Homo sapiens: one gene and its partners. The protein of the gene in region 1 purifies or fractionates together with the protein of each later gene. This does not show direct contact. Each region holds a gene or a part of one and is shown in the gene's direction. Other genes may lie near its edges. The genes, in order: SLAMF1, ATP1A3, STOML1, HEATR1, ATP2B2, ANTXR1 and UFSP2.

Region 1 (3,500 bases):
ATGCAAATGTTCATTTAATTTTTTTTTGTTAACTAGTTTGTTTATTGATTATCACATCTATAAAACATGTCATGTCTATGAAACTTCAACAGTACACAAGAGTATTTAGTGAAGACTAATTTCCCTTCCATACCTCATGCTGGAGGCAACCACTGTGACCAGTTTCTTGTGTGTCTTTCCAAATGTATAGGTCTTCGTGTTTGATAGATCAGTACGGTGACTATAGTTAACAATAATCTATTGTACATATCAAAATAACTGGAAGAGAATAATTCAAATGTTCTTAGCATAAAGAAAAGAGAAATACTCAAGGTGATACATATCCCAATTAACCCGATTTGATCTTTACACAACATGTGAGTGTATCAGACAGCACATGTGCCCTGAAAATATATACATCTATTATGTATCAATTTTTTAACATGGCAGAGAAGAAATCAGAGATAAAGAGGGTGGGGAAATAAAACTTCTCTCGACTTTTCAGTGTCCTGGTGAAGAGTACTAGCTCTGACATTTTTTCATACCATAAGAATTAAATCTGTAGTTATTTGCATAGGTAATTGCTCTGATCCAAACGAATAATAAAATTTTTCCCGAGAGGAGCAAATGGTTATAGCCTGAACAAGGTCCCTAGGTAGAGCGCCCAGGGTGCCATGAAGCCTGGAGTCACTATCTTCCTAAGCAGGCCAGCATAAGCTTGTGCCATCATTATGCAGCATGCAAGAAGGAATGAGCCCCAGAACTTGGAGTCAAGTCCCAGGACTTGCCATAAAAGCCAAGACATGTAACGGACTATCTGGCTCCTGGAGAGATTTATCTACCTACCAAAGTGTTGGAATAAGGAGCAGACCTTTAAGACGGGGAGGGGGGATAGCTGCCTCCTCCCTCTTTTATAGGTAGGGAAAATAATTTGTCCTTGTTTCTTACCTATGGAGTGTCTGTTTACTCACATAGAGCAATTGACCTTGCTCTTATCACATCATCCTAGGGGGAAGTGGGGGGCCAAAGCATTTACTATTTACTGTGAGTCATTTAATAAGAAATTTAACTCTAATCCAGTATATCTCATGTGCACATTTGGGATAAAGTTAATAAAAATGAATATTAAAAACTTAGCCCCAAATAAATGGGTCCGATGGGCTTGATTTTTATGGAACTTGAGAAGGAGCGTTCTAGAAGGAGGCACAAATGCAGAGGTAAAGGGTTTCAAGTGTTCTTGGCAAGTTGTCTGTTGTACCTGAAACCTAGGGTTTATATTTAAGGCACTTCCATGTCCTCAGCTGGCAAGTGGGGAAAAGGGTCCCCACCACTTTCTTCCATAATATACCTCTTAGGGATACTATAAAGGCAAATCAGAGTACATTCTGCTTTTGGAGGGAGGAGAACTTGGACTCTGTGTTGTCATTTGCTCATTTTTCATTCATCCCATTCTGTTTTATTAATTCACTTGGGCAACAAGGATTTACTGAGCTCCTACTATGTCCCAGGTGGGTGTTAGGGATACTGTAGTGAATAAAACAGACACAGTCCCTACTCTTGGAAGCTTATAAGAGTGGGGGATTACAGGCATTGAACCAGAGTTGAACACGTGATGAATGATATGAAGGAGTGCGTTCATTGTCCATTGGAAGTCTGTGACAGGAAAACCCAACCTAAGTCAGGAGTCAGGAAAGTCTTCCCTATGAAAGAGATGTCAAAATGGAGACCAGAAAGATGGAAGTTGTTAGCTAGGCAAATAAAGAGTGGTTATAGCCTCTAAGGCTAGGGAACGTACATACTAATAGTCTAAGATAGAAAGACCCAGCAGTGCCAAATAATAAAAATAGGACTTTGACTGATGGGGATACAGTTTAAAAAGCAAACACAGACAAGATGTCTTTTCTTTCTGAGCCTAAATTTACCAAAAGAACTGTGGGGTCTGTAAGTTCTGTTCCTTCTGTACCTGAAAGAATACTGTAGCAAGATGCTAAAAGCACATATGAAAGTGTCAGGGCTAGGCAAAAAAATATAATACAATAAAACAAAAAGAGTTATCATTAGGTAGAAGCCCATCTTGTGAGAGGGTTGGCTAAATCCTACTATTAATAATTTTTGACCAAACTCCATAGGCCCATGTGAATCACTCATTTTTCGAAGTAGAATTACCCATGAAGGAAAGTGAGTTGGTGTTAACAGCTACAAATGTTTCCTCCCAGACTCTTTTAGTAAATAAGGGCTGGCTGAATCACAGACACACTGGAAAACACTCATCTAGCAGGATGTTTCAGGAGCAGGGACGCCACTCGAGGGGTTTTATGAACCACTTTAAAGCCCCCACTTATTTTTCCACCTTGTGCTTATGTGAGGGTGATCTCAAGTACCCCCTCCAGACCCCAACACTCACACACTCAGGTATTGCGTCATCATTCTTTATGTGGGTTGTGGGGTATAAGGGTCTCTTCCTGATGAAGTTTTGGTTCCACTCCTCATGACTGAGTGTGCATAAAACCACTCAGCCTCTCTCATCTACCCCTCCCTTTTCCTCTTCCTCTTTCTCCTTCTATGTTCTTTCGTTTATTTTATTTTTTTATTTTTTTATTTTTTTGGTTATTCCCTACCTCTCTTATATCCCTCTTTCTCCTCCCCCAATCAACTCCAAGTTCTGAAAGCAACCATGGCGCAAAGAGTGTGCAAGGTTAGGTGGGGAAGGAGTGCATGGGAGCCATTTTGGGGAGTGGTGGCGATGGGTTATGGCCTGAAAATGGGATTTTTTATTCTTTTTTTCTCCCTATCAAAGTTGGTCTTTAAAAATCAACACTACGCTAGCAATTTTTAATCTTGTTTTGAATCTCAGATCCCTTTAAGAGATGGCATTTATGGATGTGCTCCCAGAAAAATATGTATACGCTCATCTATACAACTTTTTATACAAAAGTCTGGAAGTTCATACTTGCACATATGGCTTTAAATTTTTTCTCATTTCTTTATACACAGAAGTTTAGGTTCAGGATTCAAGAAGTTACTCTTTTAGGTACTGTGCCTACAAGTCAGGTATGTAGCCACCAAAGGGGTCACATTATCTAGACAGTCAGGCATCCATAAGTGTGGTGGAAGAAAATCCAACATGCTTCCCAGTATATTAATGTAAAAACAACCACCACCACCACAATAACTATAATGTTCCTCATGTCATCAAGCAGCAGGGGAGAGCACTCTGTTTTAAGCTTAATATATTCGCAATATTTTAAAAGACAAATGCCTAATTGCCTTTCTCACTTTTCCTCAACAATTAAGAATTTCAATCACTCTAGGCCAGATTTTAGCCCAGATAGACTTCTTTTTCTTCTTCCCCAATCACTGAATCTCTAGTCTACTATTAGCTGAGCCCTTTACTGAGCAACATGGGGATTTCGGGGTATTTTGGTGACAAGAATATTTGGGCCAGTGTGTCCAATTTTCCAATAGCTCATCTTAGCCACAAGTCAGTTGTGAAAGAGTCTCTTCTAGGTAGCTGCATTACT
Region 2 (3,500 bases), on another chromosome or scaffold:
GGAGATTAGCGCTGAGCCGCGCTGAGCCTCCGATCCCAGCTTGGCCCTGGGCCTGCGGGACCTGTCAGCGGCCCCTGCAGCACCCAGCCTCGCCCCACCCCTCCCACCAGCCTCGGACACTGCCCTCCCCATCCGCCCAGGCTCCCAAACTGGAACTTCAGGGACTCACACCATGCGCAGTTCAAGCCAGGACTAGGGCTTCTGCCTCTAACTCTCCTGCTCTGTCCTCCAGGAACCTGGCCATGCCCAGCCTCTGTTAAGGACGCTCCATGGGCCCAACACATGGAAGATCCCAGAGAGAGGCAGAGACAGAGATAGAGGAAGGTACCAGAGGGAGACAGTGAGAGAGACAGAGACAGAGAGACATAGACAGAGATAGAGAGGCAGATTCCAGAGACAGAGAGAGGAGATCTCAGAGAGACAGAAATAGAGAATAAGATCCCAGAGAGAAAGTGAGAGAAAGAGACAGAGAGAGAGAGGAAGATCCCAGAGACAGACAGCGAAAGAGAGAGGAAGATCCTACAAAAAGAGACAGATATATATATATATATATATGGACAGAGAGAGAGAGAAAGAGAGAGAGAGATTGAGGAGAGCCCAGAGAGAGACAGTGGGAGAAAGAGAGACAGAGAGGAAAATTCCAGGATGAGGTAGTAAGAGAGAGAAAGAGAATGAGAGATATATGGGGAAGGAGGGGGACGGAAGATTTGAGAGAGACAGAGAGAGGGAGAGAGAGAAAGAGAATGAGAGATATATGGGGAAGGAGGGGGACGGAAGATTTGAGAGAGACAGAGAGAGGGAGAGAGAGAAAGAGAATGAGAGATATATGGGGAAGGAGGGGGACGGAAGATTTGAGAGAGACAGAGAGAGGGAGAGAGAGAGAGAGAAAGAGAAAGAGAGGAGATCTTAGTGATAGTGAGAGAGAAAGAGAGATTCAGAGATAGAGAGGAGATCCCAGAGAGAGAGAGTGGGAGAGAGACAGAGATAGGCAGATCCCAGAGAGAGATATTAGAGAGACAGAGAGAGAGACAGAGAGAGGTTGAAACAGGAAAAGAGACAGGTAGGGAGAGATGTGAGCATCCCAGAGGAGACAGCTTGAGAGATGAAGATAGAGACACAATGACAGAGAGAGACAGACCGAAAGACGGAAAAAGACAGAGACAGAAAGTACTGATCCTTGAGACGCCAACTCAGAGGGAAATAAGAACCCAGAGAGACAGAAACTCAGCCAGACCTGGGGAGACACAGCCAAGAGATGGAGACAGACATCATGCAAGGCAGAGAGACAAAGAACCAGAGATCAGAGAGAGACAAAATCATAGAAAGACACATGCAGAGAGACCCAGAGACTGGGATCAGGATAGAGAATGACAGAGACAACATAAAGAGATCAGAGCGATAGAGAGAGAGAGAGAGCTATCAAGAGAGAGAAACAGCCTTGCAAAGACAGAGATACAGAGATGGAGAGATAAAGAGACAGGAGACAGAGAGATGATGAAACAAAGCAATAAGACCAAGAGCCAAAAACAGACCTGGAGATACACATCAAGGGAGACAGACAGAGGAGAAAGAGATGGAGATACACGTGGAGACATAGAAAAGACAGATACGAGGCCGGGCACGGTGGCTCACGCCTGTAATCCCAGCACTTTGGGAGGCCGAGACGGGCGGATCACGAGGTCAGGAGATTGCGACCATCCTGGCTAACACAGTGAAACCCTGTCTCTACTAAAAATACAAAAAAATGAGCCGGGCGTAGTGGCGGGCGCCTGTAGTCCCAGCTACTCGGGAGGCTGAGGCAGGAGAATGGCGTGAACCTGGGAGGCGGAGCTTGCAGTGAGCTGAGATCATGCCACTGCACTCCAGCCTAGGCGACTAAGCGAGACTCCGTCTCAAAAAAAAAAAAAAAAAAAAGACAGATATGTAGGAAGGTTGGACAGGGCCAGGGAGAGGGAAGAAGAGACAGAAGCAGAGTTAAAATGTCACATAGAGGTGGGGCACGGTGGCTTATTCCTATAATCCCAACAGTTTGGGAGGCTAAAGCAGGAGGATCGCTTGAGTCCAGGAGTTAGAGACCAGCCTGGGCAGTGTAGTGAGACCCCATTTCTAGAAAAAAATTAAAAATTAGCCGGGCGTGGTGGCACACACCTGTAGTCCCAGCTACACAGGAGGCGGAGGCGGGAGGATCACCTGAGCCTCAGAAGTCGAGGCTGCAGTGAGCTGTGATTGCTGCACTCCAGCCTGGGCATCAGAGTGAGACATTGTTTCAAAAAACGAAAACAAAGTCACATAGACACAGAACACAAAAGGGGAGAGCCCCGCAAAGATGGGCACAGAAACAGAGAGAGACTGAAACACAGGCAGAAGCCAGACAGGGACCTTCGGGGACAGAGACTCAGAGACACACAGAACCAGAGACAGGGAAGCTGATTGCAGCAGATGAGACTCACGAGGCCTGAGAGTCACCAGAGGCAGAAGGGAGGTGAAGTCACCCAGAGGCTCCGGGAGACACAGGGAGACCCCGAGAGGCAGACAGAGACCCCCCACCCAGAGATGCAGGGGCACCGGCCAGGAGGATAGCTGGGGCATGGAGGGCCGGTGTCCTCCTGGAACCCCTTCTCGCCCGCAGTCTGGTGGCTCTGACAGCTATCGTATCGCCACCTCGCAGGACAAGAAAGATGACAAGGACTCACCCAAGAAGAACAAGGGCAAGGAGCGCCGGGACCTGGATGACCTCAAGAAGGAGGTGGCTATGGTAAGCCTCGCCCTCTGCCCGCACACCCTCCCAGAGAACCTCGCCAGTTCTTGGCTGGCCTAGGCACTCACCGTCTCCCCCAAACTCCTGTTCCTCAGACAGAGCACAAGATGTCAGTGGAAGAGGTCTGCCGGAAATACAACACAGACTGTGTGCAGGTGTGGCCAGGCTGTGGGCTGGGACCCTGGGAACTAGGGAGGAGGAGCTGGGGGCTAGGACCCCTGGGTCTGAGGGAGGAGGGGCTGTGGCTGGTGTCTTAAGTTCTGGGGGTCTGGTGAAGGCCTGGGGTGCCAGGGTTGCCCAGGGAGGGTTCTGTGTGAGTCCTCTGTCCCTCAGGGTTTGACCCACAGCAAAGCCCAGGAGATCCTGGCCCGGGATGGGCCTAACGCACTCACGCCACCGCCTACCACCCCAGAGTGGGTCAAGTTTTGCCGGCAGCTCTTCGGGGGCTTCTCCATCCTGCTGTGGATCGGGGCTATCCTCTGCTTCCTGGCCTACGGTATCCAGGCGGGCACCGAGGACGACCCCTCTGGTGACAACGTGAGTGCCTGGACCCTGCCCTGTGCAAGGCTCTGCACATTTATTTACGGACACCGCACCCCAACTTCTTCCCATCCCTCTAAGCTTTTCACAGCCCACTCTCCCCCTTTTTCCCATCTAACTCACAATCACCCAGCAAGAGAACCAGATCAAATACAAGGCAAACTGAGGCTCAGAAAAGCCAGGCTACTTGTCCAAGGCCCCA
Region 3 (3,870 bases), on another chromosome or scaffold:
CACACTGTGGCCACCCTTTGAGGCCCAGTGAGACTTGTCCTCTGTGCCCTTGCCTGGCTCTCTGCACCCATTCCACATTGTGTGTTTCTGCTCCTTGCATATATGGCTGCCCTCCCTGCTGGACTGGGAGCTTCCTGCATCAGCATTCACCTGTGGATTCCTTCCATTGCTATTACACAGTATATGAAGGGCTGCCCAGGAAACCCCAGGCATCTTCACCATGAAAGCTGGCACGGCCCCTTGGCTGGGGTAGGGCTGGAGGGTAGGGAAGACAGGAAAAATGAGATCACAACTTAGGGGAAACCCAAACTCTTCTTTGTGAGCATGGGAAGATCAACATAACGTTTAGGGGAAACCGAAACTTTTCTGGATGTCTGTGTAGGTGGAGAGTAAGGCCTGCCCCTGCCATGAATCCCCACCCTGTGGAGGGGAGCTCGATCCTTGGCCAGCACTCCAGGACTACAGAGGACTGAGCAGACCCTGCAGTCCACAGGGGAGGAAGGACAAGGGCCACCTAAAGGGTCGGTGTGAAGAGGGAGGAGGAGGGTGTGTGTCAATCAGAGAAGGCTTTCCTGAGGAGGTGATGTCCTCCACATCCCAGCTACCAAGTAGGTGGACAATAAGAAGAGATGGGGAAAATCATTCAGCAGAGGAGAAGTCCCTGCAAGGGCACAGCTGGAAGAGGCAGTCAGGCAACTGGGCTTCGGGGAACTAGAACCTGAAGTACCAGACAGGTTGTGTGCGGGCATTTGAGGGGCAGGGTATAGAAATAGTAACCATTACTGTGTGCCAAATATGTCCTTATACCGGACTAGACACTTCTTATTATATTTTTCTTCAAGATAACCTGGTGAATAATGATAATAGTTTAAGTATCCTAGTTAATATATTAATATATAATGTGTTATTTTGATGTTATTGAAAAGTATTTTATTTTTTTTTGAAACAAGAGTCTTACTCTGTTGCCCATGTTAGAGTACAGTACAATCTCAGCTCACTGCAACCTCTACCTCCCGGATTCAAGTGATTCTCCTGCCTCAGACACCTGAGTAGCCAGGATTATAGGCGCATACCACCACACCTGGTTAATTTTTGTATTTTTAGTAGAGATGGGATTTCACCATGTTGACCAGGCTGGTCTCGAACTCCTGACCTCAAGTGATCTGCCTGCCTAGGCCTCCCAAAGTGCTGGGATTATAGGTGTGAGCCACCGCACCTGGCCTTATTTTTAAGCATTTAAAAAAAATTTTTTAGACCGTCTTGCTCTATCACCCAGGCTGGAGTGCAGTGGCATGATCATAGCTCACTGTAGCCTTGAACTCTGGGGCTCAAACGATCCTCTTGCCTCAGCTTCCTGAGTAGCTGGGACCACAGGTTGTGCCACCACAACCGGCTAATTTTTAAAATCTCTTTTGTAGAGATAAGGATGTCTCCCCATGTTGCTCAGGCTGGTCTTGAACTCCTGGGCTCGCAGGATCCTCCCACCACAGCCTCCCAAAGTGCTGGGATTACAGGTGTGAGCCACTGTACCCAGCCAATATTTAAATTTTGGTTGGCTAAACATTTAAAAAGATAGGAAAGCATATTATGAAAATTCTCCCTCCACACATATTTCCCATGCCTTCCCCCATCCCCTGCGATTAGTTTCTTGGTAATTCTTCCTGAAGGTTTTGTTTTTTAAAAAAAAATATATGCAAGAAAATCCAAATATGTATCTTCTGGGTTTTTGTTGTTCCTGTTTTTATACAAATGGCAACATAGAAACACAATGTTGCCTTTTTCACTTAACATTACCCACTGAGGATCTTTCCATGTTACCACAGACAGCCTTTCCCTGTGCTTTCTTGTACTTACATAGGATTCCACAGTATGGATGTATCATAAATTATTCAACCTGTCGTGGACCGATAGACATTTTGATTATTTCTTGTGTTTTGCTATTTTAAATACTTTTGCAATGAATAACCTTTAACATGTGCTATTTGTGGTAGAGTTTATCTATAAGATAAAATCCTAGAAGTGGAATTGCTAAATCAAAGCATTTATAATTTAGTAAATATTGCCAGAATACCTTCTCTGGGGATTATACCAATTTACACTCCCATTGTCAGTGGTGTTTTTTTCTCATAGTCATGTCAATACACTGTGTTATTAAACTTTTGGGTCTTTTGACATTCTGGAAAGTGAAAATTTGTATCTCAGTGTAATTTTTTTGTTTATTGTTCAAGTTATTTTTTTGTTTTTTGTTTGTTTGTTTTGAGACAGGGTCTCACTCTGTCTCCCAGGCTGGAGTGCAGTGCAGTGATTGTGGCTCACTGCAGCCTCAACCTCCCAGGCTTAAAGGATCACCATGCCTGGCTTTTTTTTTTTTTTTTTTTTTGTAGAGACAGGGCCTTCTCAAGCTGGTCTCTAACTCCTGGCCTCAAGTGATCCTCCCACCTGGCCCTGGCCCGCTAACTGCTAGGATTACAGGCATGAGCCATCTAGCCCAGCCTGTTTATTGTCCAATTGTTTATTGCTTTGTAAGTCTTGGATTTCTAGCTCCAGCAAAGAACAGGGTTTGGTTTGGTTTGGTTTCTCTTCCCCTAGCATTTACATATTTTTTAAAGGTGTAATTTACATACAACAAACACCCTTTTAAAATGTATTATTTGGCTGGCTTGCGCCTCTAATCCCAGCACTTTGGGAGGCCGAGGCAGGTGGATCACCTGAGGTCAGGAGTTTGAGACCAGCCTGACCGATATGGTGAAACCCCATCTCTACTAAAAATACAAAATTTAGCCAGGCATGGTGGTACACGGCTGTAGTCCCAGCTACTCGGGAGGCTGAGACAGGAGAATTGCTTGAACCCAGGAGGTGGAAGTTGCAGTGAGTTGAGATCATGCCACTGCACTTTAGCCTGGGCAACAGAGTGAGACTCCATCTCAAAATTAAATAAATAAAGATAAAATAAAAAGTGTCATCTGAGGTGCTTTGACAAATGTGAACACCTGAGTAACCACCACCCCCTACAATCAAATACAAAACATTCCCATCCACTCACAAAGTTCTCCACGTCACTTCCCGTCAGTGCTTGCCACCTCCAGCTTTGAGCAGCCACTGACCTTTCCATAACCGCTGATCACATTTCACTTTTCTAGCATTTCATATGAATGAAATGAGTGCACAGTACTCTTCTGTGTCTAGCTTTTTCCCCCTCACTGTAATGGTTTTGAGAGTAATACATGTTATTCTGTGTATCTGTAGTTTGTTGTATTGCCAACACATTCCATTGTCTAGATAGAGGCACAATGTATTCATTCATCCATTGATGAACATTTGAGTAGTTTTCAGGTTTGGTTATTAAATAAAGCTCCTCCAGACATCTGTGTACAAGTCTTTGTTTGGACATATATTTTCATCTGGGTAAATACCTAGAATTGCTGGATTGAAAAACTGTCAAACATTTCCAAAGTGGTCCTGTCAACATGCGGTATAGTCAGTCTTTTAAACTTTAGCCACTCTAACAGGTGTGACTGACAATGTTGAGCCACTTTTAATTTGCTTATTGGGCACGTGTCTTCTTTTGTGAACTATCTGTTCAATATTTTGCTTATTTAAGAAATGGGCTATTAATATTGTTGAGCTTTAAAAGTTCTTAGTATAGCTGGATGCAGTGACACATGCCTATATTCCCAGGTACTTGGGAGGCTAAGGGAGGATCAGTTGAGCCCAGAAGTTCGAGGCCAGCCTGGACAACACAGCAAGACCTGATCTCTTAAAAGAAGAAGAAAGAAAGAAAAAAGAGAGAGAGAGACTCTCCATACGTTGCCTAGGCTGAGTGCAGAGGCACAATCCTGGCTCACTGCAGCCTCAACCTCCTGGGCTCAA
Region 4 (3,500 bases), about 76 Mb from region 1:
GAACATGTACCTCGTATATTTTAATAATTAAGTCATATAATATATACTGTTCTACTTTATTCAAGTGGAATAAAATAAAAGTATGAAGTATATTACATACATATCACTGGCCTCGAAGTTAGGATTGCTGATTCAAATCTAGCTCAGTCATTTAGCTGCATGCCTTTGGCACTTCCTCCTGACATCAGGCTTTTGTTTTGTTCGATAATGTGTGGTTGGTAATGCCTACCTGAAAGGTTATTTTAAGAATTAAATAAGAAAATGTGTGTGGAAGTGCCTGGTGCCTGGAGGTGTGCAGTGGACAGCAGTCTGTCTTAATTGAAGTTGGTTTTTTTTTTAATTTGTTTTTCTTTTCATGTTAAATATAAAATTTCTCTTTAGGTCAATGCCTTGCTGCCCACAGAGACATTCATTCCTGTGATCAGAGGGCTGGTGGGCAATCCCCTGCCATCTGTTCGCCGCAAAGCGCTGGACCTTTTGAATAACAAGCTGCAGCAAAATATATCCTGGAAGAAGACAATAGTGAGTGAAGACCCAGGACACACCCATTTACTGTACTTTGCTTTATCAAAGAGCTGCATTTAACTCCCTTCAATTTCTCTAGTGGTACAATTTCAAATTGAAGTATATTATTTTCTGAATATAATACCATGACATGTTTTAAAATGTGACGTTAATTCTAACGGGAATATATGTGTGTTGTAAGAGCTCTTAGAATGGAATTTCAGCCTAGTGGAATTCTTGCTTACTACAGAGCTTACGTGGCCTTAGCCTTAGCATAGTTCTAAGTCCCTTTTACTCCAGATCAGTGGGTGCTTTGTATAAGTGAAACACTGGCTAGAACATGCACATCGCTTAGCATGACTGTGTGACTCAGGACCCCCGAGTCTGATTTCCATTTAGACAATCTCAAGCTGTGACAATGGGAAAATGGACAAACATTTTTTGCAGCTTTAATGATTTGGGGATTCTGGCTGTCCCCTTCAGGTTACCCGTTTCCTAAAACTGGTTCCAGACCTTTTGGCCATTGTGCAGCGTAAGAAAAAGGAAGGGGAAGAAGAACAAGCAATCAACAGACAGACAGCGTTGTATACCTTAAAGCTTTTATGCAAGAATTTTGGTGCAGAAAATCCAGATCCTTTTGTCCCAGTGCTGAACACTGCTGTGAAACTGATTGCTCCAGAGAGAAAGGAGGAGAAGAATGTCCTGGGAAGCGCGCTGCTGTGCATAGCAGAGGTGACCTCCACCCTGGAGGCGCTGGCCATCCCCCAGCTTCCCAGGTATGCGGCCGGAGACTTGGAACAGGAGCTGTTACCGCCTGGCACACATTGAAAAATAACACTTTGGTGACTTTTTTTTTTTTTCCTCTGAGTAGACGTTGCATAAAATTGGAATTTGTTAAAGAATTGATCTTGCAGGGTGTGGTGGCTCACGGCTGTGATCCCACCACTTTGGGAGGCCAAGGCAGGGAGATCGTTTGAGCCCAGGAGTTTGAGGCTGCAGTGAGCTATGACTGCACCACTGCACTGTAGCCTGGGCAACAGAGTGAGACCCTGTCTCTTAAAGAAATAATAATAAAAATAATTAATCTTCAAACAGAAAGATGCAGCCTTCCCGTTTATCTTCAGATGCACTACTTTGCAGTGTTAATCGTCCTCCATTCTTCCTTCCTTTTGTCTAGTATAGTCAAAAAGCAGTGGGTGAAGGTTCTTGGCAGAGGGGCCCACCCAGTTAGGCAAGGCCAAAGCTGCCTTCTGCTGCCAAATTTGGAAGTTAGAAGCTCCTGGCTGTGGTAGTTCCTTACTGTACAGCCAGTATGTTCCTTAACCTGTTAGAGCTTTGCTGTCTATAAAACAGAGACAGTATCTACCTCATAGGATTTCTGTAGGGCAGTGCTTGCAAGGAGTTTTGCATAGTGCCTGACACATAGTAAGTGTTCAGTTAATGAAAGACATTGTTATTTTTTAAATTACTGTTGTGTCCGTACTGTTAGCACTGGGAGATTTCTTGTGCTTAGCCACATAAAATGTATAGACACTGCTTTTTAGGCTATGAAGCAGATAGCGATGTAATAGGCACAGTTTGCTGGTTTTTTTCATAATGCCCTCTACTCCATTCCCTAGCCTCTGTTTCTGCTTCAAGTTCTTCTAAAGCTCTTACTTTGTTTCTAGCCTGATGCCATCGTTGCTGACAACAATGAAGAACACCAGCGAGCTGGTCTCCAGCGAGGTCTACCTGCTCAGTGCCTTGGCTGCTCTGCAGAAGGTTGTGGAGACTCTCCCGCACTTCATCAGCCCCTATCTGGAAGGCATTCTCTCCCAGGTGAGCCACGATAGCCACGACATGCTACGCAGGGTGGCTGGGGAAGGTAAAAGATCACAAATGTAGTGATTTTGTTTTTTCTTTAAGGGTTAGTTTCCGTTTGACAGAAAGGAGTCTTATTTCTGAAGAGATGTGCTTGCTTTTATTAAATGTGTACTTTTTCTCTTCCATCATCCTTGCCACTTAATCTTGAAATTGATATGGGGGTCACTTTTTAGCGAGATGCTTCTCTTCTTTAATTGTGCGGAATGTATTCTGGCTTTTTTTTCTTCTGTGAGATCTTTGGAGTTGGGCTGGTAGAGCCGCCTTTTATTACTTGTGGAAATTGATGGGCCCTGTTTCTACTGTGAGAGGTATAATCCTAAGGCATCTTGCAAAGCAGAATTTTTGTATTGCACGTCAGCGGTTTCCTGTCAACACGCTAGGGGCCAGTGGTATTTATGATTGAAGATGCTCAAGAATGTTGAGACCTGGCTGTTCCATTGTGTTGATCATTTGCCATTTACAAGGTTAGGAGCCTTCATTACCATGGGGCAAATGATTAAACCGCTTCACTTACACCACAGCCAGGGTTTAAAAGTAGCCTTCTCAGAGAAAGGGGCCTGTGCTCTGAGGAGCTTTCTCAGTTTTTTAGCAACTTGACTCTTGCCGTGGTCCCTTGCATTCCTGTCCTCTAAGAAAATCATCTGTCTGGGTGCTGTGTGTGCGTCTGCGTCTACCATCGGCCTTCGTCCCTGATCGCAAGTTGGGCAAGAGGTGTCTGCCCAGTTTTATCCACTGACGTTTAGGGCTGACTTTAAAAGGAATTCTGTGTGTAGTTAAAAAGTGCTAAGCATTTTCCAAACACTAGTACCTCATCATGAAGCCTCTCTGTAAGTGTGTGTTTGTCAGCGAAGATCTGCAGTGGCCCTGATCACTTTTTTTATATTCCTGTAGGTGATTCATCTGGAGAAAATCACTAGTGAAATGGGTTCTGCGTCACAGGCTAATATCCGTCTCACATCTCTTAAAAAGACACTGGCTACCACACTTGCACCCCGAGTCCTGTTGCCCGCCATCAAAAAAACTTACAAGCAGATTGAGAAGAACTGGAAGGTTAGATCTTATTGGGTATTAAGACTTTGGAGAAGGGAGAGGTGGTACTGCAATGTGTAAACTTTGACTTAAAGAAGAAGATT
Region 5 (4,064 bases), on another chromosome or scaffold:
GGTAGTGTTGAAATATTATAAATGGTATTGTGTTGATTTTTTTTTTTATTTAGTAACTTACAGGTTTGTTTCCTTATTAATGGCAGCATCTGAGCTGTTGGCATATTGGATGAGGATCAGTATGGCTTGCTGCTTTTATTTTTATTTTTGAAGAAGAATAGCCTTTTTCTCTGCACTATTTAGATCCGAATGAACCTTATGATGTGTATATTGAGATGTACTCAGTGTGATTTTAAACCAAATTGTCTTCCTGTAGTCACAATATATACTGTAGCCTTTTAACAGCAAGTCTTGCTTTCCCAAACAGAAAGCCATTCTGAAACCCTACAGTATCACAGGTGAGAAAAGGTGGTTATTTTTTCCCCAAGACAACAGCACTAGTAATCCCACTTAATAAGAGCTTATTTAATTGGATGTCAGCCTCTTAACTGCTAAGCACTTTGTGGGTCTCAGCGTTTTTCATAAAAGAACTTTTGTATTTAATACAAAGTTTGCTTTGAGACTTTTCAGCATATGATCTTTTTTCCATAAACTTGTACAGTGCAAAAGACATTTTGAATACCATGATCGATGATGTCCCATGCTTCGAGGAAAACCAAACACTTTCCGCCTCTCTTGCAAAATCCATTCCTCATGCTGACCCTCCTCACGATGGCTGTGTCAGCCCAGCCCCTTCCCTTCTCCAGGCCCAGAGAACTCTTCCACAAACAAGATGAGAGCCACTCGGGAAAAGAGCCATAGTCAACTGGGAGGGCCTACATCTGGATGGCGGTGGAAAAACTTGAGGGTTTGGGGTTCAAAGTCAGCCCATCCCACCTGGCAAAATCCTCCTGGAAGGAGGACCTTCAAGAGCGCATCACCTGAATGTCGTGAAGAAGTATCTCTGAATGTATCCAGGAGAGGAACTGCATAACCAAAGGGGTGACCAGCCCTCAGATGTGCTTATTGGATTCCAGTACAAACGCCACCAAAGCCAGCCCACTGCTCTCCTACAAGGAAGGAAAGATCTGCACGTGTAAAACATGGGGCAGCCTTGGAACATGGTGTTTTTTGGAGTTTCCTTTCTCACAGTTTTCCATCTCCCCACTTCTTTGATCAGTCATGTGTCCGTGACCTCGTTCCATGACATCAGGATAGCTGTGTTTGCACACCATGCTCCATGTTCATTCGGAGCCAGGAGGGGTTCTCAGTGGAGCCTGGCTTAGGGAACAGGGAGCGATGGAAGAATGCCAACATTAGCGTTGGTCTTCTCTTGTCAGGAATGAAGGATGCTTGCACACATGCACCCCCTCACTCTCACACTTGCACACATACACACACACACACACGAAATGGTTGGTTTGTCAAAACTCACTGTAGTACATAAAGCTTGCACTCTGCGTCCTATATCTAGCAGCATGGGGTACGTTTGGCAGTTCACTCCATTAGGGGGTAAATAATTTATGACCATTCATCTGTTTTTATGAATTTTTTTATCTAGACAATAATGTAAATAAAGAACTCACCATCTCTGTTCATTTAATACTATGCAATGGTTATGCTTTCAATCGCTGGCTCTTCTGACTCGTGCAGTGTGGTTCTGAAATGTTTGTGGTTTAAAAAAAAAAGCAAAAAACAACATCAAACAGAACATAGTAAATATATCTGTAATGTATACTTTTTTCTACTTTGGGACTGCATCATCCACATAGCTTCTTTTCTGTCCTCTAGACAAGGGCTCCAGGAGTAAGTGGCAGATTTGGTTCTGAGAGCTAAGCTCACCAACTTGTCTCCCCCTCAACAGATGAGGGAAGGGCAGGGAGCCCGTTCAGTGACTCCTGGCGCTGCAGAATCACTCATCTTTGGAGGTGAGCAGAGAGAGCTCTGAGGAGTTTCCTTCTTGCAACTCAGGCGGAGCTTTCTTTAACTCAGGAGCAGCCTCCATTGCTCCCGCCAACCCCTCACCATGGCCCCTTGTCCCCTTGTCCCAACCATAGCATAGAGATGACAAGAGAGAGGCAGTCCTATTTCTGAGACTGGACCAATTAAAATGACTGCACTGGCTCAAAGGACTCTGAACCTGTCTTGTCCTGGGTCCTCCAGTTGTTGGAAGCCACTCTTTTCCCCAACCATGCTGAAATGCCACCTTTACCACACACTGATGTCTTACATAGACTTAGATCTATTTCTGGAACTTCTCTTCTCTTCGCTTACTTGGGTGTCTCATCTGGCACCAGCCATACAATTTTAACTATTGTCAATTTCTAATGTCTTATTATGTGGTGGGATGAGTCCCTTCACTCTTCTTTTACAAAATTTCCTAGTTATTCTCTCACATCTATTCTTCCACATAAACTTTAAATTGTGCCCAGTCCTCCACCCCCTGTCCCATTCCCACCCCCAAATTCTGGGCTCTGTCATTCCCTGTGCCATCATCTTCCCCCCATTGTAATTACTGTCCACTCAGGGCTGTGAAATAGACTATGTTCTGTAAAGAGGGACAAAAAGGGCATCCTGATCTTGAGAGAAGCCTGCTGTTCCTCCCATCATTTCACCTGCCCCCTAAGCCCAGGAGTTGTCATGAGAGGTCACCAGGCCCCCACTCAATCTCAGCTTGGGAACCAAAGTCACCCACCTTGGTTGTGTTGGGGTGGACCCGCCATCTGTCCCTGGTCCAGACGAGAAAGAGGAGTCTCTCCTAGGCCTGGAGCTGGGAAAGAATGTGTGGCCCAGTTGTCTGCACTTCTAATTCTCATCATGGAGAAACCTTTATTCCTATCTCCCTTTCCTGAACTGGTTTTTTGTTGTTTTTGTTTCATTTTGTTTTGGGGGGATAGTTTCTTGCTCTTTAATTTGGAGTCTCCAGTACCTTTGGGATGCAGGCAGTTCTTGCCTGGGCCTTCTCGGAACCCTCACTCCCCTAGCCCACTCTTGCGCTACCTGCAGGAGGCTGCCAACCTGGTGCATTCTGACAAGCCTCCCACCCAAATCTCTCTCCTGCCATTGTGTCCAAAATCCCACCATTAGAGGCTCTTGTAGGGAAGAGCGTTTCTTGAAGGCTTTTAGGCCTTCCAGAGCCAGGAGGGAAGTCAGACAATAGCAGGAAGTCCCCAGGCCTTTTCAAAGTTCCAAACCAAGCTCTCCTGATTTTAATGTAGAGATCATACCAACCCAGGTGGGGGAGGAGGGTCCCCAGCCCCAGGCAGCAGCCATCACCCCCTCCACTGAAAACAATATTGGAGGCTGCTTTGGGACTGCCCTTCTCAGCCCCCTAAGTCTGTTTTGTAATGCCTGTGGTGCTCTCCCTCCTGGACCTTTCCTCTCGGGGGTCACCACACTTTGCTAACTCTTGTGTGCACATATTTTATAATAGAGTAGCGAGGGAATGGTGCCGCCTCCAGCTTCCGTAAGCTGCCCGGGCTCTGGGGGGCTCTGGGACAATCGGGGCTGGGAAGTGACTGTGCTCTTATTGTACACTCTTTATTTCTCTGTATCTTTGGCTTGTGCTCTTTGTAATTAATGGGATTTGTCTGCCTTTTCAACACTATACTGAGCAATAACAATAAATGCACACGTGGAAATGCAGACACGGTACACATCACAAGGCCTTTTTCTGAAGGACAGCTGGGTCCCCGCCCTTCGTGGAGTTGAACTCAGGGGGAAACTGAGTCCCTGGGAGGGAAATGCACTTTGCCCAAGGGCCCACAGCTCAGCGGGCAGTCTCTCTCCTTCCACTAGATCACACCTTTTGAACACCCACCATTTGAGGGAGACAGGCTCACCCTGCCATGAGCCATTAACCTATGAGGAATGGTTGACCATCTCATAGAAGAAGACTGGGGAACGGGGCCTCAGGACGAAGCGGAGGAGGTTTGGGGGCAAGGGGTGGGGGGGCAAAAATCAGGGAAAGTTGGCCTGATTTGGGGTCTGGATTAACCAGAGGGAGGAGATGCGGAATACAGACACTGGATCTAGGTGGCACCCCCCTACTGGGGAGAGGGGTAAGGCAGAGGGAAGCCTGGCACCTGAGGAGTCTGGACTTCACAAACCTCTGCTGAACATTGGCAGAGAAAGAGAATATGCCC
Region 6 (3,500 bases), on another chromosome or scaffold:
ATTCTAAAGACTGGGAATACAATTGTAAGCATGACAAACAAAAGCCTCTGTGGAACGTACGTTCTAGTGTGGAGAGACAGATATTAAGTAAATATCAAGCCATGATGAGATCCTTAACTAAAAATAAAACAGATTGATGGAATGAAGAGACCGCGGCTACTTTAGAAGAAATTTCCAGGGGAGGTTTCTCTGAGGAGTAATATGAAAATCCATCCATCAGAAGATGGGGTGGGGGAAGTGCTTTCCTAGACAAGGGGACAAGGGGACACTGTGCACAGGCCCCAAGACAGGAATTTGCCCAGAGTATTTGAGAGAGGGCAGGCAGGCTGGAGCTCAGGAGGAGGGGGGCACATGATAAGGAAGAAGGCCAGAAAGGTGAGCAAAGGCCAGAACACACAGGGCAGAGCTGGCGTTTGCACTTACTCTGCTGCTTTGTGGAGAACAGATCATAGGTGAGTCTTAGGGCAGCAGGAGGCCAGTTGGGAAGCTACCACAGTGTCCATGAGCAAGTGCATGGGGGCTTGGGCCCAGGATAGTGGTGGTGGGGATGGAGAAGTCAACAGATTTTAGATCTTTAAGTAGTAGCAACAGAACTAGCTGGCAAGTTGGGACAAGTTGGGGAGAGGCAGTAAAGAAGAGAGAGGCAGTGGGGAAGACTACAGGAGGAGCATGTTTAGGGTAGGGAAATCAGGACATCTCTGCTGTGGTGTTGTTGAGATGTTTTTTAGCCCCCAAATAATGTGAATGTCAAGTGAGCAGTTGGAGTTCAGAAGCATCAGGGCTGAAGATGTAAAGTCACAAGTCATTAGCATGTAGGTGGGGTTAGATGCGATTCCCACAAAGGAGTAGAGCTGTAGAAGAGAACAAGAGAACAGGACTGTACCACAAACTTACCAGGTAGCACTGCTTACATTCCCACTCTACAGATAAGGAAAACAAGCTTAGGTGGTTTCAGTGATTGGCCCAAGGTTCTAGGAAACAGTAGCACTGGGATTGCACCCAGGCAGTCTGACTCTATAAGCTCTACTCCTAATCACTTGGCTGTAGTAGGCAGGTCCACACAGCAGTGCTGTTTTGCTTCCTTCATGTGCCACAATTTCTCTGCAGGAAGAAGATGATGATGGTCTGCCTAAGAAAAAGTGGCCAACGGTAGACGCCTCTTATTATGGTGGGAGAGGCGTTGGAGGCATTAAAAGAATGGAGGTAAGAGGACAGCTTCATATACACTTATCTATGTGCTGACTACTCCCATCGAGGTACCAGCCGGGCCTGACCCTGCTTAGCCTCTAGATATCAGGCATGCCCAGGGCAGTATGGCCGTAGACCACACTGATGACTCAATGTCAGAAACCCAAAGCAAATTGCTGAAAACCTCCTTGAGGTCTGGTGGGGATATGGATTGTAAGGCAGACGGATGGAGAGATAGGAGGGACAGCCTTTCACTGTGCGTTTCCATGTCTTGCCCACCGTGAGTCAGAGCAGGTCACACATCAGCTCAAACGTCCTCGTGATTTCTTTTCTCACTGGAATAAAATCCAAAGTTCGTACCTGAACCTGCAAGGTCTTTGCATGTGCTGTCCCCGCTGCCTGGACAATTCCTCCCTAAATATCCACCCATGTGGCTCAGCTCTCTGCTCCTTTGGTCCTCCCCTTTTCTCTTTTTCCACAGTTTCCCTCTTCCCTGGCCCTCAAAACCCAAAGGAATCCAGGGTTGGGTAGCATTCACATTGCAACTCATGCATGTATTTGTCATTCTCATTCTCGAGGGGCAGCATATTTTGTCATTTCATTTCATTGTATTTTGTTTATTTTAGGTTCGTTGGGGAGAAAAGGGCTCCACAGAAGAAGGTGCTAAGTTGGAAAAGGCAAAGAATGCAAGAGTCAAGATGCCGGAGCAGGAATATGAATTCCCTGAGCCGCGAAATCTCAACAACAATATGCGTCGGCCTTCTTCCCCCCGGAAGTGGTACTCTCCAATCAAGGTGTGTCTCTTTACTCAAAAAATCTATCATCAGTCCTGATAAAACACTTACATAGTGAAGAATCAAAATCTTTCCACATGATAAAATCCCAACCTAAAACCCAGCTTATCACAGGGGAACAATTATCTAAAATTATGGACTTGAAAGTACTAGTAATTACTTTGTCAATTTCCACATAATCTGGGTTGAAAACTAGGCTTTTTAAAAATCACCGTGGTGCTCACTTCTGCAGCACATATAGTAAAACTGGAACAATATAGAGAAGATTAGCATGACCCCTGGGCAAGGATGACATGCAAATTCGTGAAGTGTTCCATATTAAAAAAAAAAAAAAAATCACCATGGCAAGGTACTGGAAAAAGCATGGACTGTGAGTCAAGTAACTTGGGTAGTAACCCCAGAGAGTGACTATAAATTTCCATAGCATCTCATAACTTCACTTAGCAGACAATCTACTATCTAAGAAAAATGGCAGCCTTCTCCTTAATGCTAATCTCTACTCCTTTTGCCATAATATAAGCCCATTCCCTTTTATTTGCGCCTCCTGCCAGTGTATCAGGGCCCACCAGCAAATCTCACTGGTCATGGATCTAGGACTCACTCTTTCTGGTTGTAAGCAAATCTTTTTTCTCCACCATCTGTCTTTCCCCCACACCTCCAGATCTTAAAATCCTCTTTGGTTTATTGGGAAGTGTAAACCGTTGGAGGCAGTTAATGTTTCCTAAAGGCCTCTTTTTTATTTTCTATTTATTTATTTTTTGAGACAGGTTCTCACTCTGTCACCCAGGCTGGAGTGCAGTTGTGTGATCTCTGCTCACTGCAACCTCGACCTCCCAGGCTCAAGCCATCCTCCCACCTCAACCCCCAAGTAGCTGGGACTACGGGCACGCACCACCACACCCAGCTAATTTTTGTTTTTTTTTTTTTTTTTTTTTTTTTGAGGGACGGATTTCACTATGTTGCCCAGGCCTGTCTTGCACTCCTGATAAAGCAGTCTGCCCACCTCGGCCTCCCAAAGTGCTAAGATTACAGGCATGGGCCACCATGCCCAGCCTGAAGGCCTCTTTTCTATTCTTCTTGGTCCAAATGGCTTTGAATTCACATGATTCAGTTAACACCTTCAATCTTTAGCCATGCCCATAAACATCTGCACTATGCCACTTGTCAGAGAGCACTGGAAAATTATAGCTGAAAAGACTCTAGACATAATCTGTCCCCACTCTCTGATTTCATACTGAGATAGGCAAAGTCCTTGTTCTGCTGAGGTCTGGAAAACAAGGCCCCCAACTCAGGGCTACAGACTCCAGTTTCAAGCTGCAAACAGAACCGAACCAACTCCAAAGCCTCAAGTCAAAGACTCAATAGAGCCAGCTCCCATCACCATCCATACACATACACACACTCACACACACACACACACACAGCCTTACCCCCCTTCCAATAGCAACAAAGATTATTTTCATCATTCGCTGAGTTAATTTGCTAATTTTGGATCAGGGCTTCTCCAACAAATCAAAA
Region 7 (2,928 bases), on another chromosome or scaffold:
AAAGGGTGGTCTTTGTGAACCAGGCATTTCGATTTTTTCTTAAAGGCAGGGAGAAGCCTTAATTATTTTCATCATCAAATTTCTCTTTTCTGGTTGACTCAAGGGGCTCTGCACTACATGGCATTATCTAGGTAAGGTTTCTGAACAATTAGAGTAAGGGATTGTCCCTGATTTCTTTCTCTGAGAATTGCAATCTCCATCTTTGCTAGTTCTATTTCTATAGAACTTTTCAACAGCAGAAACCTCCTTGCTCTATTTGTATACACAAGAAACTGTGCAGCCAAGGTCCTGCCATTAAAACTATTGATTCACTTGACTCCAGGAACCCAGGAGGCCAGAGGAGAGTTCCATCTCTGCCTGACCTCTTTGCCTTCTTGTGGTGCTTTCCTGTTTGAAGTTCCCATGCTGGTCATCTCACAGGAAAGAAGCATGTCCTATGCACTATGTCCCTATGCAATCCCATTCTGACACCCTCTCTACCAATTTCTCCTTTAAAAAATCTGGATCTGGTTACCTGGACAAGGCCTTCATGTGTAAAAGGATCAAAAAAAGGTTAAAACAGAATGAGCCTTTTTTCTCTGTCTGTTAAGAGAACAGATTTTAGGACATTAAATTAATAGAGAAAGTTTTGCTGAAAAAATGAGATGATTAATAGAATGCTGGTTACCTAGGGAGAGTGGGGGATTACCTAGGACTGGTAGAGGATTTTTTACTTTTATCTTGTTTTTTGACAACGTGTATCTTATTAGGAGGGAGTCAGACCGCTGCTTGTCACTCACTTCATGGTATTTTCAGAGTCTCAGCCTCCTTGCAAGGATTTCTCAAAGCATTTAAGAATCATATAATACAGACCAGTTATTGGCTTTTAAGTTTTCTTCTTTAATAAAATAACTCAGTGGCCCTAGGAGAAATCTGAGAAATTTTCATACTCTAAATGAGATTTTGCTTGAAAGTAATTTTCTCTGCTGGCAAAAAGGATTAATACTGACATGAAACATGGGAAGTAGAATTGAGTAACACCTGGAATTTGAAAATGAAAGGGCACAGAGTGCCAGGCAGGGGGCAAGCTGAGGTTTCTCACTACAGTACTTCAATCCTAAGATGCCACTGAATGGTCTCTTACAGTCCTTTATGGACTATTAAGAAAAACAGATTGCTAGTTCAATTGTCACATGCTATCAGTTGCAAGTGGTAAAACTATACATCTCAGAATCAGTAAAGTGTGGTATCTGGAATAACAGTTACAGGTAAATTTTTTTTAATGATTTTTATGATGAATTACATACATAGAATTAAAAGTTCAAAAACCTACCTTAAAGGGTAAGATACGTTACTTTTCTATGCTAGTAGGAATTCAAATCCTTGAATGATAAAGCCATTTAGAGTCTTATTCCAAGGTCCTGCTGACAGAGCCTGATGTCACGATTTCCATGACATAATCTTGTAACTTTGTAAAAGGCTTTCCTTTCCCGTCTTCTCTATCCAGGGCTGGTGCGGATGGAAGGGCCCAGATTTTTGGAACAAGGATGCATACTATAACTTATGTCTTCCTCAGCGACCAAATATGATTTAAAATATCTTGGAGTCAAAGACTGCAGTAGAGTGGTATTATAAATTTGTGAATAAAGAATCAGTTTAATTTTTCACATTAAATCCTGGTTCTAGTTTGACGATTTAAATTATGACCTTTTTCAAAGGTTGTAAATACTGCACGGAGAATGTATTTTTTAGACGTTCCTTTAATAACTTAAAAGACAAAGCATACACAACCAGCATATTATAGGCATGTAAATACATGTGTTCTTAAATGGATCTTCACTTGGAAGAAAGTTTTTCGTCCTTCTCAGAAGGAGATTAGACACAACATATGGTAAAGCCAAAAGCAGGAGCTTATAGATTTGCATGAAATGAAGGCGTTCTTCAGACTTCTTCATAACCCACGTGACATCTGTTTTTAAAAACACGTTAACATTAAAAACTTTTTTTTAAAAAGAGTTTTATCCCCAAACTTCCACCATGCAGTCCCATTTTTGGTCTCTAGACTCTGGTAAGTATAACCAGTACTAAAATGTTAATGAGAATGAAACAATACTACTAGAAATACGAGTGTCAGTATTAAATGGAATAATAAATGCTATGCAAACAAGAGATCACTGCGGGAGGAAAAAAGCAGCAGCTCTGAGTTACTTACCAGCACTTCCTTTTCCCACTGGTATTTTCTACACTTCCGAGACTCCGTTTCTGTCTGAGCACGGCAACACAATCATTCCTGTCAGGGTGTTCACTTGCTTTTATTGTCTGCATACATTTAATTGTTGTAAGAAACTTGGCACAGTCTGGAAATCCACATGACCAAGCGAGATCTTCAGCTGTTTGCCCGTTCTTATTACATAAACTGAAAACAGGATAAAAACGGAGTGAAATGAAACATTGAACTTAAGTCTTTTTTTTTATATCTTACAAGGGAATTTTGGGCTCATACAAATGTTGGTTGCAGAACAGAAGAGGTAAAGGATGCATAAGGAAATTGCATTTTTGGTCACTATTGTATCCTCAGCAACTAACAGAATCCAGCATAGAGCGGGCATTCCAGTTCTGAATGAATGTTAGAATTATCTGATGTTTAATACAGTGTATGAGTACCCAAAGGTAGTCAATGGGAACTATAGAATGGGTTTTCCTGAACCGAAACTGAAGTAGAATACAGTCATAATGAACAAAATTGCACCTCTGATTGCTCAGGATCTGACTTTTTACTTACTCGAACTGAGTATTATTCGATAGCACCAACAACCTAAGTTAACATTTAAATGATTAACACTAAATTATCAATTACGCAAGCATTATTTTTAAAAGCACATGTAACTAAGCTTCAGGAGTCTGATTAGTTTAATCCAAGAAAACATAAAATGTGAAGCCACTGTTTTC

What was found.
Region 2: the proteins of SLAMF1 (region 1) and ATP1A3 purify together in Homo sapiens (affinity purification with mass spectrometry; 2 studies listed by BioGRID and IntAct, with this or other methods). This does not show direct contact.
Region 3: the proteins of SLAMF1 (region 1) and STOML1 purify together in Homo sapiens (affinity purification with mass spectrometry; 2 studies listed by BioGRID and IntAct, with this or other methods). This does not show direct contact.
Region 4: the proteins of SLAMF1 (region 1) and HEATR1 purify together in Homo sapiens (affinity purification with mass spectrometry; 2 studies listed by BioGRID and IntAct, with this or other methods). This does not show direct contact.
Region 5: the proteins of SLAMF1 (region 1) and ATP2B2 purify together in Homo sapiens (affinity purification with mass spectrometry; 2 studies listed by BioGRID and IntAct, with this or other methods). This does not show direct contact.
Region 6: the proteins of SLAMF1 (region 1) and ANTXR1 purify together in Homo sapiens (affinity purification with mass spectrometry; 2 studies listed by BioGRID and IntAct, with this or other methods). This does not show direct contact.
Region 7: the proteins of SLAMF1 (region 1) and UFSP2 purify together in Homo sapiens (affinity purification with mass spectrometry; 2 studies listed by BioGRID and IntAct, with this or other methods). This does not show direct contact.

The regions. Positions count from the first base shown.
Region 1 is NC_000001.11:160,640,545-160,644,044, reverse strand, and holds part of SLAMF1 (signaling lymphocytic activation molecule isoform b precursor), read left to right. Parts: intron 1-3,500.
Region 2 is NC_000019.10:41,987,731-41,991,230, reverse strand, and holds part of ATP1A3 (sodium/potassium-transporting ATPase subunit alpha-3), read left to right. Parts: intron 1-2,629; coding exon of another isoform or gene 2,630-2,668; coding exon 2,669-2,755; intron 2,756-2,853; coding exon 2,854-2,913; intron 2,914-3,091; coding exon 3,092-3,295; intron 3,296-3,500. UniProt on the Homo sapiens protein: This is the catalytic component of the active enzyme, which catalyzes the hydrolysis of ATP coupled with the exchange of sodium and potassium ions across the plasma membrane.
Region 3 is NC_000015.10:73,978,426-73,982,295, reverse strand, and holds the end of STOML1 (stomatin-like protein 1), read left to right. Parts: 3' UTR 1-3,370; downstream 3,371-3,870. UniProt on the Homo sapiens protein: May play a role in cholesterol transfer to late endosomes. May play a role in modulating membrane acid-sensing ion channels. Can specifically inhibit proton-gated current of ASIC1 isoform 1. Can increase inactivation speed of ASIC3.
Region 4 is NC_000001.11:236,556,017-236,559,516, reverse strand, and holds part of HEATR1 (HEAT repeat-containing protein 1), read left to right. Parts: intron 1-381; coding exon 382-522; intron 523-987; coding exon 988-1,280; intron 1,281-2,171; coding exon 2,172-2,322; intron 2,323-3,258; coding exon 3,259-3,417; intron 3,418-3,500. UniProt on the Homo sapiens protein: Ribosome biogenesis factor; required for recruitment of Myc to nucleoli. Involved in nucleolar processing of pre-18S ribosomal RNA. Required for optimal pre-ribosomal RNA transcription by RNA polymerase I.
Region 5 is NC_000003.12:10,323,523-10,327,586, reverse strand, and holds the end of ATP2B2 (plasma membrane calcium-transporting ATPase 2), read left to right. Parts: 3' UTR 1-3,564; downstream 3,565-4,064. UniProt on the Homo sapiens protein: ATP-driven Ca(2+) ion pump involved in the maintenance of basal intracellular Ca(2+) levels in specialized cells of cerebellar circuit and vestibular and cochlear systems.
Region 6 is NC_000002.12:69,180,679-69,184,178, forward strand, and holds part of ANTXR1 (anthrax toxin receptor 1 isoform 1 precursor), read left to right. Parts: intron 1-1,107; coding exon 1,108-1,203; intron 1,204-1,814; coding exon 1,815-1,982; intron 1,983-3,500. UniProt on the Homo sapiens protein: Plays a role in cell attachment and migration. Interacts with extracellular matrix proteins and with the actin cytoskeleton and thereby plays an important role in normal extracellular matrix (ECM) homeostasis.
Region 7 is NC_000004.12:185,399,037-185,401,964, reverse strand, and holds the end of UFSP2 (ufm1-specific protease 2), read left to right. Parts: intron 1-1,241; exon of another isoform or gene 1,242-1,486; coding exon 1,487-1,573; 3' UTR 1,574-1,947; coding exon of another isoform or gene 1,948-1,948; 3' UTR 1,949-2,187; coding exon of another isoform or gene 2,188-2,395; 3' UTR 2,396-2,428; downstream 2,429-2,928. Other genes in the region: ANKRD37 (ankyrin repeat domain-containing protein 37), read right to left, coding at 2,188-2,395. UniProt on the Homo sapiens protein: Thiol-dependent isopeptidase that specifically cleaves UFM1, a ubiquitin-like modifier protein, from conjugated proteins, such as CD274/PD-L1, CYB5R3, DDRGK1, MRE11, RPL26/uL24, TRIP4 and RPL26/uL24.